Linked DNA regions of Homo sapiens: region 1 is linked to region 2. Evidence: fine-mapped expression QTL. Tissue or cell type: whole blood. Region 2 holds a variant in brackets; the other region holds the start of a gene. All regions are shown on one strand. Distances are between the middles of the regions.

What was found. PIP is the estimated chance that this variant, and not a neighbour inherited with it, causes the effect.
Region 1: it holds the start of SOWAHC, and the variant in region 2 is fine-mapped to the expression of SOWAHC in whole blood (INTERVAL, PIP 0.98).

What each region holds. Positions count from the first base shown.
Region 1 is chr2:109,613,148-109,616,048 of GRCh38, forward strand. It overlaps SOWAHC (sosondowah ankyrin repeat domain family member C), which reads left to right and starts at 1,217. Exons shown (of 1, transcript NM_023016.4): 1 at 1,217-2,901. The coding sequence starts at 1,343. SEPTIN10 (septin 10) reads right to left here and starts at 819. Exons shown (of 11, transcript NM_144710.5): 1 at 651-819. The coding sequence starts at 680. It also overlaps a transcript of RANBP2 not described here. RefSeq lists an enhancer at 1-618 and silencers at 471-560, 591-840, 1,101-1,270.
Region 2 is chr2:109,566,951-109,569,851 of GRCh38, forward strand. It overlaps SEPTIN10 (septin 10), which reads right to left. Exons shown (of 11, transcript NM_144710.5): 6 at 865-1,026. It also overlaps a transcript of RANBP2 not described here. Among named protein-coding and RNA genes, the nearest start is that of SEPTIN10, 46 kb to the right of the region's middle. The variant C/CT (reference allele first, on the strand shown) is at 1,423.

The sequences.
Region 1 (2,901 bases), 46 kb after region 2:
GGTACTATTAACGAAAATAGTTGTAACCACACTTGGAAAACCGCTGGCTTACTAACAAGCGAGATAAATCTACAAAAGTAACTGGAAAGGTTCAAAACAGTGAACAAACGCGTTCTTTTAGAGTACAAAAGAGTCAAGGCGGGAAAAAAACGGTTTAAAATCCCAATGGAGGAAAACTTGGACGACCACACCATCGGATAAAACGGGAGAGCTTTTGAAAAGCCAGGGGAGCCGGGCTTTCTCCCGGCGGCAGGGAGGCTCGGAAGTGCTCACGGCTGCAAAAGATGACCGCTATTCAATCAGTCCGCACTGCGCCTTCAACTCCGTTATAGCCGTAAGAGACCCACAAACACCGCTGTGGATGTAACTTTTGGCAAAGACCGGGAAGTCGTTCAAGAACTCTCCCACCGTCCCGACGCTGGCGCCGCGCCCCGCGAACCGGGGTCCGGCCGCGCCCAGGCTCCGCAGAGGCTCCTCTCCCGCCCCAGGCGCCCGGCCGCCGCGGAAGCCGGGGAGCACTGGGCGGGCGGGGCCGGAGGGGGCGCGGGTCACAATCCCGGGCCGGACCAGGGGGCCGGTGGGTCGAGGGCGGGAAGTCCCGCGGGGGCCGGGGAGCGCGGGGCTGGGGCCCCGGCGTCGGCGGGACTCACCAGGTGCCGCGCCACCTCGGAGGAGGCCATGGTCGCGGGCAGGGGCACGGTGAAGCGGCTGTATCAGCCCGGCCCCGAGCGGCTGGTCCCGGCGACGGCGGCGGGAAGGCCGGAGGGCAGAAGCAACGGGCGGGGCGCGAGGCTAGGCTGCCTCCGCGACGGGGAAGGGACAGGGGCGGGGCCGAGCTGGAGGCCTCCGGGGGCGGGGTTGGGGCGGACGCCCTGTGGTGCGCGCTGAGCGTTTTGCCTGCGCCAAGCGAGCCCCTCACAGGAGCTACCCTCGACGCCTGAGGACTGAGCGTCAGCGTTGGGGCGGGCTGAAGGAGAGCTGGGACTCCAGGAAGACGGCGCGAGGAATGCAGGCGGGAACTGCGGAGCAGTGATTGCGGCCCTCGCGAGGCCGGAAGTGGGCGGGCCTTGAGGCGAGGCCGCCCTAGGTAGGTGTGGCCGAGACAGCGGGGAGCGGAAGTGGGCGTGGCCTGGTGGCGTGGGCGCGGGGCGGGGGTGCGGGGGGCGTGTCCGCCCGGGCGCGGCCCAGTGAGGCGGTGGCCGAGTCCTCTGGCCTCAGACGCGTAGGCTGGCAGCCCGCTGAGCCCGCCAGACTCCGCCGCCGTCGGGAGCCGGCCGCTGGGAGCCCGTCGCTATGGGACCGCGCTGAGCCGCCCGCTGGCGGGGGAGCAGCGCGGTCGAGGATGGAGGGGCCGGCAGAGTGGGGCCCCGAGGCGGCGCTGGGCCCCGAGGCGGTGCTGCGCTTCCTGGCGGAGCGCGGGGGCCGGGCCCTGCACGCCGAGCTGGTGCAGCACTTCAGGGGCGCCCTAGGCGGCGAACCGGAGCAGCGCGCCCGCGCCCGCGCGCACTTCAAGGAGCTGGTGAACGCCGTGGCCACTGTGCGCGTCGATCCCGCCGACGGCGCCAAGTACGTGCACCTCAAGAAGAGGTTCTGTGAAGGGCCGTCCGAGCCCTCCGGGGACCCGCCGCGAATCCAGGTGACCGCCGAGCCCGAGGCCCCCGACGGCCCTGCCGGGCCCGAGGCGCGCGATCGGCTCCCCGACGCGGCGGCCCCGGAGTCGCTCCCTGGACAGGGCCGCGAGCTGGGCGAGGGAGAGCCCCCCGCCCCCGCGCACTGGCCGCCCCTGAGCGCCGGGGCTCGCAGGAAGAACTCGCGGCGCGACGTGCAGCCCCTACCGCGGACTCCAGCCCCGGGGCCCAGCGAGGACCTGGAGCTCCCGCCACATGGCTGCGAGGAGGCGGACAGGGGCAGCTCCCTTGTGGGGGCTACCGCACAGAGGCCGGCCCGCCAGAACCTCCGTGACCTGGTGATGGGCAGCTCCCCGCAGCTGAAGAGGAGCGTGTGTCCCGGGGGCAGCAGCCCGGGCAGCTCCTCCGGGGGAGGACGCGGCAGAGGCGGGGGCGACTCAGACAGCGCATCGGTGGCCTCGTCGTCCGCGGAGGAGGAGAGCAGCGGCGGAGGCTCCGTGACGCTGGACCCCCTGGAGCACGCGTGGATGCTCTCTGCCTCCGATGGCAAGTGGGACAGCCTGGAGGGCTTGCTCACCTGCGAGCCCGGCCTGCTGGTCAAGCGGGACTTCATTACCGGCTTCACTTGCCTGCACTGGGCCGCCAAGCACGGCAGGCAGGAGCTTCTGGCCATGCTAGTCAACTTCGCCAACAAACACCAGCTGCCGGTGAACATCGACGCCAGGACGAGCGGGGGTTACACCGCCCTGCACTTGGCAGCCATGCACGGCCACGTGGAGGTGGTGAAGCTGCTGGTGGGGGCCTACGACGCCGATGTGGACATCAGGGACTACAGTGGGAAAAAGGCCTCCCAGTACCTGAGTCGGAGCATCGCCGAGGAGATCAAGAACCTGGTGGGAGCCCTGGACGAGGGTGACGGGGAAAGCGCCGCGGGTAGCGGCGGCGGGCGCTGGAGGCTTTCAAAGGTGCTTCCCTCGCATCTCATCACCTACAAACTCTCACACGCCCTAGAAGATGGAGGGGACCATCACCACCATCACCACTCGGCTGAGGGGTGGGTCGGAGGCAAAGCCAAGGATCCAGGGCGCAAAGCCTCGGGCAGCTCTAGTGGACGTATAAAACCCAGACTCAACAAAATCCGATTCAGAACCCAGATCGTCCACACCACACCCTCTTTCAGGGACCCAGAGCAGCCGCTGGAGGGCAGGGGGGAGGAGGGAGTGGGGGAGGAACGACCTGTTAAAGGCCACTCGCCCTTCACATTGAGACCAAA
Region 2 (2,901 bases):
AATAAAATTAGATGTAAAGACAATTTAACATATAGGAATTAAGATCACCTCATTTACATTAGTCAGTTTTTTTTTACAGATTTAGTTTAGGTACACTAATATAAAAGTGGTATGAAAAATCAGAAAAGGAAAATAGAAGAAATGGAATGAACAATTATTGAAAGTCACTGTTAGGCGCTTAACAAAGGTGACATCATTTATCCCTCACAACAACCCTTAAGGTGGGCAGTATTAACCTAACTTTGTAGATATGTTAAGTCTCAGGGAGGTTAGTAACTCCAATGGACATATGGCCAACCAAGCCTGTCAGATTTCAAAACCCATGATCCTACAAAACACAACCAGGTGTTTTAAAAATGTGTTAGCTTCAAGAAAGTAAAATTAAGAACTTAGTCACCTTCCATTGTACTAAACTAAAAGTTATATGAATGTAACTTGACACTATGAGAGAGAAGGAGCATAAATACTAGTTTTAAGAGACCTCCTTAAAGATTTTAAGATTTTACAGCATGCAAAGGGAGGCTGTAAAGTCTTCTCATGTTTATAAAGACAGGGTAGGAAGGTGTCATCTTTCTAAGGCAATTACATATGGCTGCACAAAAGGTATATCCCAGTCTCACAAATCTATCACTTTATTTTGGTGAAAGCAGAGTGAAAGAAAAATATGCTTAAAAATAAATTCTCCTTACACCTTTTCCAACTTAAAAAACTAAACATTTTCTCATACTGGACTTTTTGAAAATTCACCTTGTTTGAAGTCTTTTTGGAAGACACAAGTGAAAGTGTATTAGCAGCAATATTACTCACAAATTACAGTTTTATTTTCACATGGAAAACAGAATTAACATTCAATCAGGAGCTCACATTCATTGCAGCGTTGACCTTAGCAATAGTGTCATCATCCGTTGGGAACTGGTATATCTGGACGCCATTGCTGACCAATTCACTCATGAGCTTGATCTTAAACTTCTGTAATTCAGTTTTAGAAACCGTATCTGCTTTGGCAATCACTGGTATAATGTTTACCTATTAAGAATAAAGAAAAACAAAATCTTACTGAGGATTTTTTTTTTTAATCCTGCAGCTGTTTTTTCACTCAAAACTGTTCATTCTGACAATGAATTTCCCTAAACCTAGATCGGGGGGCTGGCAAACTACGGTCCATCTCGCTGTTGATCTTGATACATAAAGATTTACAGGAACACTGCCATGCCCATTTGCTTGTGTACTGTCTACAGTTGCGTTCACACTACAACAGCAGAGATGAGTTGCTGCTGCCATAAACCACAGGGCCTGTGACGCCCAGTGTATTCTCAGCCTGGCCCTTTGCAGAAAAGGCATGCCAACCCTGACCCAGATGGCCATTCTCCTGTATATATACACCCCTTATACACTCATTCCTACAGATGCCAGCCACACAAT[C/CT]TTTTTTTTTTTTTTTTTTGAGATGGAGTCTCGCTGTAACCCAGGCTGGAGTGCAATGGTGCAATCTCAACTCACTGCAACCACTGCCTTCTGGGTTCAAGCGATTCTCTTCCCTCAACCTCCCAAGTAGCTGGGATTACAGGCACCTCAATCAATGCTTTCAGAAAGCAGAACTCTTGTAAGATTAATCTTTCATTTGAATTTAGGTTTAGAAATCTCACATTTTCTTCTCTCTCAAAATCTTGCAATTTCATCATACACTTAAAAAGTAAAATGTGATAAAAGGTAAACTGAATTGCCTCAATTCACTAAGAATTTTTATTTTTTAATAATCTAAGCACTAAGTAACCAGGGTGATTGATCCCTCAGCAAAACTAAAAGACAGGTGAAGCTTCTCTTTGTGCCTCGTTTCAGGACTGACTCCATGCCTACCTGTGCCCCACTGTCACAGACTTACTTAGACAGCAGAGGAAGGAAACTGTATGTACTACTATCTTAAAAGTGTTCATGATGCAAAGGAATAACTTTCTCAGTATTATTTGAAGTCCTATCACTGACAGAGGGCAAGAGATTTGGGGTTGTGAAGACCGAATAACTTGTAAATCTAGTTCTATAAGATTAATATCCCCACAAAAGACTGATAGCTCCACAAATTTGTGACTGGTGGTTCTTAAGTTTTTTAGTTTGTTTTTCATCAAAAACCTCAGGCTAATCAGTCATATGTATCAAGACAGTAAAACCTCAATGTAATTTTCAGATTAAAAGTAAAAAATTGACTGGGCGTGGTGGCTCACGCCTGTAATCCCAGCACTTTGAAAGGCTGAGGCAGGTGGGTCACCTGAGGTCGGGAGTTCGAGACCAGCCTGACCAAAATGGAGAAACCCCATCTCCACTAAAAATACAAAATAATTAGGTGGGCATGGTGGCACATGCCTGTAATCCCAGCTACTCGGTAGGCTGCGGCAGAAGAATCGCTTGAACCCAGGAGGCAGAGGTTGCAGTGAGCCGAGATCGCGTCATTGCATTCCACACTTCAGCCTGGGCAACAAGAGCAAAACTCTTGTTAAAAAAAAAAAAAAAAAAGGAAAAAATTATAATTCCTATTCTAAATTTTTTTATCTTCTCAAATTTCACATTGATGCCAAGTATATATCTGAATTTATCAGCCTTCCATATGCTCCCAAGGAGAGAAATTTTTTCTGTCTATGAAATTGATGGCAGAAAACTTTCCAGCAATCCTAAGTAAACAACTTTCCTGTTAAATTAGTCAAAGTACATAAACATTTTGGTGCCAAGTCCTTAGTTTCAATATTATATACTTAGGTATTCAACAAATTATGCCAAGTTAATAACTTATAATTGCTTGCACAATAAACTGCAGTAGACTGAATACTAAACATCAATGTTTACATGACTATTAGAGGGAGGGAAAGTAACAGATATTGCCCAAAGAGGGTCGCTTGTCACCAATGGCGTAAG